Linked DNA regions of Homo sapiens. The protein of the gene in region 2 purifies or fractionates together with the protein of the main gene of each other region. This does not show direct contact. Each region holds a gene or a part of one and is shown on either strand. Other genes may lie near its edges.

Region 1 (3,652 bases), on a different chromosome or scaffold from region 2:
CTGGCAGGTCTGATTTTTGGTTACGTCTATATTTCCCTTTTGCAACCTGTACTGTTGGCAACTAGAAGTGTGCCTGAGTACTGAGTGCTGAGCTAATGTGGGCTATGCAAAGAGGCTTCCACTCTTGCCGTTTCAGTTCTTTTATCTGTAAGATGAGAGTGACTGCTTTTAACTTCTCAGAGGAGTAGTAAGTCAATATATTAGGTACAGACAGAGGCTCACTGTAAACACCCAAGTGGCAGCTCTTCACCCTTTTCCTGGTTTAGAAATGGCCATTTATCTTTGGGTGCCCCAACCTTAAGGGCAAGAGACAGAGCTGTCTGTCAGGATGATGAGTAGAGTGTGAATATAAGATTAGTTCTAGGAGTCACCTGTGTTCATTTCTTCCTGATATCTTTTCTGGTAAACCATTTTAAAACAAAAAATTTACTGTAAAATTTTTGTTTAGTCCCATTCTGTAATTTGGATCATCTTGAGAGCAAAATGATGACTGACAGTTCAGGTTAAAATAATAATGATACATAACTTTGCCATGAAAATGACTTGTTCCTATTCTTGATTGGTCAGGGATCAGTTCTCTTTAGTTTCTTGTACATCATCAATAATTAATAATTGTATATAACTGCATATTTGTAAGTGCTTATTGGGTAAGAGAGATCAGATGAAAATGTAGGTAACTCATGGTTATTGTTGTTAATTTAAAAAATTACAATATAAGTAAAAAAGACCTGACATATTTCTGAGACTCAGTATTATCACCTTTATGTACAAAGTCACATTATGAAATACCTATATGTGATTCTTTGTACATTTCTCATAAAATGTAACTTTATTTTAAAATTATATTATTCCAGAGGAAAACTGTTACGTTTAAATTAGGAAAATATAGTATTGCTGCTATTAATGCTTTCACCTAGCAATATTTGAGAAGGTATCAGAGTACATCTTTAATTCATACATGTTTTTAAATATTGAGCATAGTTTTTAGTATTACAGAATTTTGCTCAACATGTAATTTTTCTCTATCAAGGCCTATGTAATTGCTCATATTTCCTGAATGAGATAATTTGGGAATGTTGCAGTTGTAAGATCTTTCTCCTACTTTAAAATTACCTTTGTGTATACTTTGAAAAAAGTTGGCATCTGGCCTCAAAGAAGGTGTTTTTGTAGCATGCGATCTTATTATGAGGTTAATAAATATCTCTTTTTCTTATAACAAGAATATCAGAAGCTGTTTTTGCATTTAAAAGCCTTTCCCTGTGGCATTAGAATGAAGGTTATTTTAAAAGAACTCTTGTAGTGCTCCACCACAAGTTTTGTTCTTTGCCTCCCCCGCAGCTGGCTGCATCAGAATAGTTGTGGAAGTTGCTTGGTAGTCATGAGAGAGTGCCTAGCAGTGCTCTTCAATAGAAATATACCTCAGAGAGTCATGAGAGGTGTTGTGAGTTGGTTAATTCCTGCTCTCCATGTATTGGTATAACTCCGTTTTCTTTATTTCCAGGAGCCTCTCTCCTATTTTTGTGTAAGTTTTAGTTGCTGGAAAAGAGCTCCTTAAAAATCCCATGAGTCTGGCTCTGCAAACCTTCTCTACAGTGCAAACTACTTTTTTCCTAACAAGAAAATGGCAAATTTTCCTAGTTTGTTGTTGTTGTTGTTGTTGTTATTTCTGAAAATCCAACCCCCAGGCCAAGCCTGTCTGTATTAAGGGAAATCACACCTGAGATAATCCAGGTCTTCCTGAAGTCACTTTTAAAATTCTTTCTCTGTTTCCTCCCCAGTCTTCAGAGTGATTTAATGTGCTCAGGTATTTGAAATCCTTAATGAATTACCTGACAACTTGTTTGGTTTGAATGACTGGCATAACCAAATGAATCAGTCATTGGCCTGCTATAGATCTGGCGTATTAAAGAACAACAATTGATTGGGTAATCATCCATAATTAAATGCTCTTAATGTTCCAGGAATAAATAATTTCTGCTTTTAAACTTTGTTGCAGTCTTCTCTCTCAGATCTTTCAGGTGATGAGATGAGCAGCCTTAGACACTGGAAAATGTTTTGGGAGAATCTTGGGGAAAAAGATGTATTAAGAGAAATATGGCCGGGTACGGTGGCTTATGCCTGTAATCCCAGCACTTTGGGAGACCGAGGCGGGTGGATCACCTGAGGTCAGGAGTTCAAGACCAGCCTGGCCAACATGGCCAAACTCTGTCTCTACTAAAAATACAAAAATTGGCTGGGCATAATGGCGGGCCTGTAATCGCAGCTACAGGCTGAGGCAGGAGAATCGCTTGAACCCAGGAGGATGCAGTGATCTGAGATTGTGCCGCTGCATTCCTGCCTGGGAGACAAGAGTGAAACTCTGTCTCAATTTAGAAAAAAAAAGAGATAGAAATCAGGGTCTATCAGAAATACTTCTTAGACGAAAATTTTTGTTTCTATTGATGGGAGAAGCCCTAAAGAAAATCTCCCAGAAAGAGTAATTAGATCATTTTATGAATTAAACTTAATTTAAGCAGTGCTTAACCTTTGAGGAAATTGGCAAAAAAAAAACCACATTTTTTAATCAGCCCATTGATCCAAGCTTGCAGAGTTGTAAATATTTCTATTTCAAGTTGTCTGTGTAGTGCAAAGCAGTCATCTTCCATCCTGGAATGTTCTCAAGGTGACATCTAGAGGATGTTGTGGTGATATCTCAGGGAGTTATTGATACTTTTATATTGCAGAGGGAAGTTTTGGCAGGCAGCTAGTTTAAGCCAGGTCCCTTATCATTGATGGTACTATAAAAGGGAGTATCCAGATTCTTTAGAATCACAGTGAGATTCTTCATTCTTGCATAATTCATGGGGATAAAATAAACTTTAAAATTCTGGCACCAAAATAAAATGATTGAAATTTCCATGACTGTTTTGCATTACTTAAGAACACATGCATCTTGAAACAAACCATAGTTAATCTGTGAACTGCACTCATGTCCATCCATGTCCACCAAAACTTTTAATGATTGCAAAATGGATAGGTTTGAGTCTTTATTTTCTTGGCCAATTTCTGCACGTTTTCATTTAGAGCATTAAGCTATAAAAATATCAGAAGACATGTATTTGGTTATAGGAAGCCACATAAGAATGAGCAGAAGATTTCAACAGATCATTTGTTGGGTTAGCCAATCTCCAGAAATCTACAGTGAGCTAACTTTAGTGAGCACAGGGCATTGTAATCTGAGACTGAGGCGACACACACTGGATCTAAGGTGGGTGAGAGAATTGTTAGAGACTTGAGAGTGCTACAGTAACAACTGATGACCTTAGAAAATTGGAAAAATATGACAAAAAGATAGACGTGTAGGTATCCTAGAGAAGAGGTTAATGAATGAATTAGTTCCACACCTCAAAAATGATAATTTATAACCAGCTACTGTTGCTGAGACTAAAACAAGGGAGATAGATTAAACCTCAGTAGGAGGGAAATAGTTTAGATAGAAGAAAAGATAACCAGGATCCTGAACGTTCTCATGTACTATGGTGAAAAACTGCAGGAGTATCTGATCGTTTTCCCCAATTCTCTTTACTTCTAGAAAGCCCCAGAATAGAGGAGTTGAGGAACTGATTTTTTTCCAGACCATAATCATAATCACTTATTTTATGTTTTAACACTT
Region 2 (3,652 bases):
TTTTCTGTACTTTCCCCGATGTAGGTGGCCCAGAGCAGGTGCAGCTGGGAAGCTAGAGGAACCTGTGGTTGCTGGGAACTCCCCTGCCCCCAATCTGGTGTCAACTCACAGATGTGGGCTCCCCGCCATCCCCCGACTTCCCCTTCCCAAGGTATATGTGACACCCACCTGGCTGATGTCAGTGAGGCTGCCATGGCCTAGGCACCCATTGCTGCCGCTGCCGAATGTCATGATGATGCCTCTGTCTGGGGAGAAGGGCAGTGAGGAAGGAGAAGGGAAAGAAGTTAAACAGTCTTTCCAGATAGCCCGGTCCTCCAGTGGGTTGCAGCAGCAAAATAAAGTTGGGGACCAGGGCTGGAAGGATGGGATAGGAAGAGAGAAAAGGATATGAGTCCCTTCAAACATATGTGACTTTGGACAAGTGACACCCTCTCTGAGCCTTAGCGTCCCCACTTGTCAAATGAGGATAATATAATAACTGCCTTGCCAGGCCTGTCCGTAGGGTAAAGGAGGTTGTATAAGGAAATCTCCTCAATAGTTACTAGACAGAAGCAATAACTCGATAACTAGTAGACAGAAGCATTCATTAAGTGCGTGTTTTGCAAGAGAAGAGAGAAGGTGCTCTGTGGGGCCTCAGAGCAGGTCCCACAAGGTAGGCCCGACAACTCACCAGTCAGGCAGGCAGTGAAGAAGTCCCCACAGGCCACGTGCTTGATGGTCACACCCGACTGGCCCTCCAGGAAACGCGAGATGAACTGGGGCTGTGGCTGCTCCACTGCCCCAGGAAGGAGACTGCCTCCGCCTGCACCTAGGGGTGGGGCCTGCAGGGGCAGGGGGATGGGCAGCGCCTGAGCACCCCAACCCTGCTGTGGACCTCCACCTCCACCCATCCAGGCCACCCCCTGGCCTGCTCACCTCCCACAGGATGAGACGCCCAGAGCGCGTGACGCCGGCTTTCTGCGTGCGCCCAGCTGCCACCTGGACCACCTCTGTGTTGAGCATTGGCAGCCGCAGGGGGGTGCCCAGCCCACCACCCCAGGCATACACTGACGACAGTGGTGGTGGGATGGCTGGCCTCACAGGTCCCCGGGGGATACCTGCAGGTACAGTGCATGGGGACTATTAAACTGATGGGAATGGTGTGGCATCCATGGGGACTGGCGGCCTCTTCCCACTTACCTCTGCAGCGGACACTGGTGGTCCTGCTCCCTGTGTTGCTGGGGGCCACGGACTTCTCTGCCCTGCAGGACAGATGGGGGCCTAAGGACAAAGACCCTCCTGACATTCCTACATGCAGGAAGGGAGGACTTGCCCCAGGTTTCCCTCTGCCTCAGACCTCCTGTGCTCCCACTGGGTGCCCACACCCTGCCGCCCAGGACCGCTCGCTGTCCCTGCACAGGCCTCCGCATGCGGACACTGCCCACGTCGGTGTGGAGGTTGAGGAGGGCACGGATGCAGAGGGGCTGTGCCATGATGTGGCTGAGTGGTGGCCGCTGGGCAGGCTCCAGGCTGAGTAGACTCAGGACCAGCTGGCGAAGCTCAGGGCTGTACCGGTCAGAGATAGGTGCAAAGGTGCCACTCATGATCTTCAGCACCAGTGCTGGCAAGTTCTGTGAAGGCACCAGGTTGAGAATTTGGGGAAGTGAGGGCAGCACCCCCCAGCTCCAGCCCCTGGTCTCCTGGGATAATAACAGCTTTGCCTGGAGGCATCATGCTACCTGACTTCAAACTATACTACAAGGCTACAGTAACCAAAACAGCATGGTACTGGTACCAAAACAGAGATATAGACCAATGGAACAGAACAGAGCCCTCAGAAATAATGCCACACATCTACAACTATCTGATCTTTGACAAACCTGAGAAAAACAAGAAATGGGGAAAGGATTCCCTATTTAATAAATGGTGCTGGGAAAACTGGCTAGCCATATGTAGAAAGCTGAAACTGGATCCCTTCCTTACACCTTATACAAAAATTAATTCAAGATGGACTAAAGACTTACATGTTAGACCTAAAACCATCAAACCCCTAGAAGAATACCTAGGCAATACCATTCAGGACATAGGCATGGGCAAGGACTTCATGTCTAAAACACCAAAAGCAATGGCAACAAAAGCCAAAATTGACAAATGGGATCTAATTAAACTAAAGAGCTTCTGCACAGCAAAAGAAACTACCATCAGAGTGAACAGGCAACCTACAGAATGGGAGAAGATTTTTGCAATCTACTCATCTGACAAAGGGCTAATATCCAGAATCTACAAAGAACTCAAACAAATTTACAAGAAAAAAACAACCCCATCAACAAGTGGGCGAAGGATATGAACAGACACTTCTCAAAAGAAGACATTTATGCAGCCAAAAGACACATGAAAAAATGCTCATCATCACTGGCCATCAAGAAATGCAAATCAAAACCACAATGAGATACCATCTCACACCAGTTAGAATGGTGATCTTTAAAAAGTCAGGAAACAACAAGTGCTGGAGAGGATGTGGAGAAATAGGAACACTTTTACACTGTTGGTGGGACTGTAAACTAGTTCAACCATTGTGGAAGTCAGTGTGGCGATTCCTCAGGGATCTAGAACTAGAAATACCATTTGACCCAGCCATCCCATTACTGGGTGTATACCCAAAGGATTATAAATCATGCTGCTATAAAGACACATGCACACGTATGTTTATTGTGGCACTATTCACAATAGCAAAGACTTGGAACCAACCTAAATGTCCAACAATGATAGATGGATTAAGAAAACGTGGCACATACACACCATGGAAAACTATGCAGCCGTAAAAAATGATGAGTTCATGTCCTTTGTAGGACATGGATGGAGCTGGAAACCATCATTCTCAGCAAACTATCGCAAGGACAAAAAACCAAACACCGCATGTTCTCACTCATAGGTGGGAATTGAACAATGAGAACACATGGACACAGGAAGGGGAACATCACACACCGGGGCCTGTTGTGGGGTGGGGGGAGGGGGAAGGGATAGCATTAGGAGATATACCTAATGTTAAATGATGAGTTAATGGGTGCAGCACACCAACATCGCACATGTATACATACGTATCAAACCTGCACGTTGTGTACATGTGCCCTAAAACTTAAAGTATAATAAAAAAAATAAATAAATAAACAATAACAGCTTTGCCCTCAGGAGACTTCAGTCTGATGAGGAGACTCCCAGACTGACAGGGGAGTCCAACCTGGCTTTCAGTGATCCCTAGTCTGATAGGGGAGCTGCAGCTATATCCTCAGAAACCCCAGCATGCTGGGAAAACTCAAGTCTTGCTCTTGGGAGGGTCTTCTGGGAAAGCCACAGCCCTGCCCTCAGGAGCCCTCCGTCTAATGGGAGGCAAGACCTACTCTCAGAAATCCATAGTCTGAGGGACACCCATAGCCCTCCCCTGGGGTAATCTGATAAGGGAGAGACATGACTCAGCTAGAGGAGAAACCTGAGGTGGCTTGAGCCAAGGGCTGCTGGGCGAGGCAGTAGATTTCTCAGTTGTCCCCTGGAGGGTGCATACACTCACCGCAGCCTCGAAAGCCCTCTTGAGGCTGGCCAGCTCGTAGAGGACACAGCCCAGGGCCCAGATGTCACTCTTCTGGTTGTAGGGCTTGCCCTCACACAGCTCAGGGGA
Region 3 (3,652 bases), on a different chromosome or scaffold from region 2:
AAATTTGCTGGGTGTGGTGGCACGTGCCTATAGTCCCAGCTACTCAGGAGGCTGAGGCGGGAAAATTGCTTGAACCCAAGAGGCAGAGGCTGCAGTGAGCTAAGCCCATGCCATTGTACTCCAGCCTGGGTGACAGAGTGAGACTCCATCTCAAAAAAAAAAAAAAAAAAAAAAAATTAACAAAATTTTAGCAAATGAAATCAAATAATATATAAAAAATAAACCATGATGACCAAATGAGGTTTATCCCAGGAATGCAAGGTTGGTTTAATATCTGAAAATCAGGGTGATGATAGCTAATAATAATGCAGTGTATATTTCAAGATAGCCAGAAGAGAGGATTTGAATGTTATCATCACAAAGAAATGATAAATGTTTAAAGTGATGGATATGCTAATTACCTTGATTTGATCATTATACAATATATACACATACATTGCATATGTACAATGAAACATCACACTGCTCCTGCTAAGTATGTGCAATTATTATCTGTCAATTATAAATTTAAAATAAATAAATAAAGCCGCTCACAACGCAAAAAAAAAAAAAACAGGCCAAAATTTGAAAATCAATGCTATACACCCTATTAACAAACATGTATGTGTAATCACCTCAATAGATGCAGAAACAGCATTTAGCAAAATTCTACATTCATTCCTAGTTTAAAATTTTTTCAAGCCTGGGCAATATAAGGAGACCACAACCCTACAAAAATTTTAAAAATCAGCCAAGGCCAGGTGCAGTGGCTCACACCTGTAATTCCAGCACTTTGGGAGGCCGAGGTGGGTGGATCACGAGGTCAGGAGTTCGAGACCAGCCTGGCCAACATGGTGAAACCCTGTCTCTACTAAAATACAAAAATTAGCTGGGCATGGTGGCATGCGTCTGTAATCCCAGCTACTTGGGAGGCTGAGGCAGGAGAATTGCTTGAACCCAGGAGGCAGAGGTTGCAGTGAGCTGAGATTGTGCCACTGCACTCCAGCCTGGGTGACAGAGCAAGACTCTGTCTCAAAAAAATAAAATAAAATAAAATAAATAAAAATCAGCCAAATGTGGTAGTGCAAGCCTGTAATTCCAGATCCCAGCTACTCAGGAGGCTGAGGAGTGAGTATCGCTTGAGCCCAGGAGATAGAGGCTGCAGTAAGCCAAGATCATGCCACTGAACTGCAACCTGGATGACAGAGTAAAACCCCCTCTCAAAAAAAAAAAAAAAATTTTTTTTTTACCCACAAACTAGGAATAGAAAGAAATTTCCTTAACCTGTTAAAAAGGCATCTATTAAAATACAACAAACAAACAAAAACCCTTCACCTAACATTATATTTAATGGCTGCTCTAATTCTAAACTCCCTCCCTGAGAAATTTCACCCACTCCCAGGCATCAGCTATCAATTCTGTATGCCCAGCTTCCCTCAAATGCCAGAATGATGAACACTTTTTCTGGACAAAAGTCATTCAAGGGAAAAAATGCTAAACGCAAGTATTTTTTAAAAAGATATTATCTTTTTAAAAAATTCAGAAAATGCAACAGCTACGGCTCCACTCACTGTCGCTTTCATAGGTTCCCATCACTAGAGGATTTCTTTTTTTGGCTCAAAATGCAGAGATCACAGAGCCAGCATGCACTTCGTACATAATACAATTCATGCTGTGCATCCATTTGGACAGAGTTTGTGTAAGATGAGCCCCAGTGGCACAGGGTAAGGGCTTGGGGAATTGGAGGGTAAAAATGCAAGCTGGCACCATTAGGAGATTCTTGGGGGCTGGGGCAGCAGGATCAGGAAGTGCAATATTTCGCAGGGGCCAGGGAAGTCAGGGGTAGGGGGAAGGCAGATGACAGAGCAGAAGGTATTAAGTCTGAGTAGGAAACAAAGAGGGACAGGTCAAGGGCAGTGATAATGGATGTGAAATGCTGTGTGAATTATGACTTTCCTTTTCCTTTCCCAACCTACAAAATAGTGGAAGGCATATTTTGGCACCACGATTCCGGAAGAGGACATGCAGAGAGCAGAGGTTTGCGGAGGGAAACTTTAACGTTTCTCCATCCCACAGAGGATCACATGCTGTGCCCACATCCCCTGCAACAGGCAGCCCAGCCTGTGACTCAGGCCTGAGCTGGTGAAGTGGCTGCCCCAAGCTCAAGCCATCAGGGAGCGCTCAAGAATGAGACACGGAGTGCGCCAATTGTCACCTTTACTATTTTTCATTCTGTGTTTAACTCAAAATCAGGCAGCCTACATGCCAGAGAGCCACATCAGGGTTTGGATGAAAGGGGTTTGGCAGGCCGGGTGCGGTGGCTCACGCCTGTAATCCTAGCACTTTGGGAGGCCGTGGTGAGCAGTTCACTTGAGGTCAGGAGTTCGAAACCAGCCTGGCCAACATGGTGAAACCCCGTCTCTACTAAAAGCACAAAAATTATCCGGAAATCACTTGAACCTGGGAGGCGGAGGTTGCAGTGAGCCAAGATCCATGCCACTGCACTCCAGCCTGGGCAATGGAGTGAGACTCGGTTTCAAAAAAAAAAAAAGAAAAGAAAGGAGTTTGGCTGCTCATTAGAATGACCTTGGGACCTTATTAAAATGTCGGTACTGACAAAGATTCTTTGCTTGGCCAAACTTTAACTAGGCTTCTGAACCACCCCGTAGGCCCATCTGTGTGCTTGTAAAATCCGGTTTTAGCAAAAGAACCCTGCTAAGGCCATTTACCTAGAACCCCCTACCCTTGATATCTGGTCGATCTGATAATCGTGGATATCTGATTGGGTTCCTCAACACCCTGCCCCCGCCGCCCCAGTGATGTCTGATCACTCTGGCCTGTATTCAGCAAGAATCCTGTTAGGGGCCGGGCACAGTGGCTCATGCCTGTAATCCCAGCACTTTGGGAGGCCAAGGCGGGCAGATCACCTGAGGTCGGGAGTTCGAGACCAGCCTGACCAACATGGAGAAACCCCATCTCTACTAAAAATACAAAATTAGCTGGGCTTCGTGGCTCATGCCTGTAATCCCAGCTATTCGGGAGGCTGAGGCAGGAGAATCACTTGAACCCGGAAGGCAGAGGTTGCAGTGAGCTGAGATCATGCCATTGCACTCCAACCTGGGCAACAAGAGCGAAACTCCGTCTCAAAAAAAAAAAGGAATCCTGTTAGCTCAGTCTAGCCAGAATCTCTTTACCCTTGATGTTTCCTCTTAGTAATTTTCTTTTTTTTTTTTTTGAGACAGAGTTTCACTCTGCTGCCCAGGCTGGAGCGCAGTGGCACAGTCTCAGCTCATTGCAACCTCTGCCTCCTGAGTTGAAGCAATTCTCCTGCCTCAGCCTCCTGTGTAGTGGGATTAGAGGCGTGCACCACCACATCTGGCTAATTTTTTGTACTTTTAGTAGAGGTGAGGTTTCACCATGTCAGTCAGGCTGGTCTTGAACTCCTGACCTCCAGTGATTGCCCACCTTGGCTTCCCAAAGTGCTAGGATTACAGGCGTGAGGCACTGCGCCTGGGCCATATTTTTTTTCTTTAACAGTGCCCAAGCCCCTGGTCTGGGGATTCTGATTCCACAGGTCTGGAATGGGGCTTGATCACCCATATTTTGAACATATGTTCAAAGTGATGGTAGTAGTGCCAGTGAATTCTGTCCAGAACAGTGTCAAATGCTCACC

Evidence for each region.
Region 1: the proteins of NEK8 (region 2) and SLC25A13 purify together in Homo sapiens (affinity purification with mass spectrometry; one large-scale study listed by BioGRID and IntAct). This does not show direct contact.
Region 3: the proteins of NEK8 (region 2) and CAPG purify together in Homo sapiens (affinity purification with mass spectrometry; one large-scale study listed by BioGRID and IntAct). This does not show direct contact.

What each region holds. Positions count from the first base shown.
Region 1 is NC_000007.14:96,179,073-96,182,724, reverse strand, and holds part of SLC25A13 (electrogenic aspartate/glutamate antiporter SLC25A13, mitochondrial), read left to right. Parts: intron 1-3,652. UniProt on the Homo sapiens protein: Mitochondrial electrogenic aspartate/glutamate antiporter that favors efflux of aspartate and entry of glutamate and proton within the mitochondria as part of the malate-aspartate shuttle.
Region 2 is NC_000017.11:28,735,264-28,738,915, reverse strand, and holds part of NEK8 (serine/threonine-protein kinase Nek8), read right to left. Parts: coding exon 3,545-3,652; intron 1,611-3,544; coding exon 1,402-1,610; intron 1,242-1,401; coding exon 1,180-1,241; intron 1,098-1,179; coding exon 916-1,097; intron 822-915; coding exon 671-821; intron 246-670; coding exon 169-245; intron 1-168. UniProt on the Homo sapiens protein: Required for renal tubular integrity. May regulate local cytoskeletal structure in kidney tubule epithelial cells. May regulate ciliary biogenesis through targeting of proteins to the cilia.
Region 3 is NC_000002.12:85,403,735-85,407,386, forward strand, and holds part of CAPG (macrophage-capping protein), read right to left. Parts: intron 1-3,652. UniProt on the Homo sapiens protein: Calcium-sensitive protein which reversibly blocks the barbed ends of actin filaments but does not sever preformed actin filaments. May play an important role in macrophage function.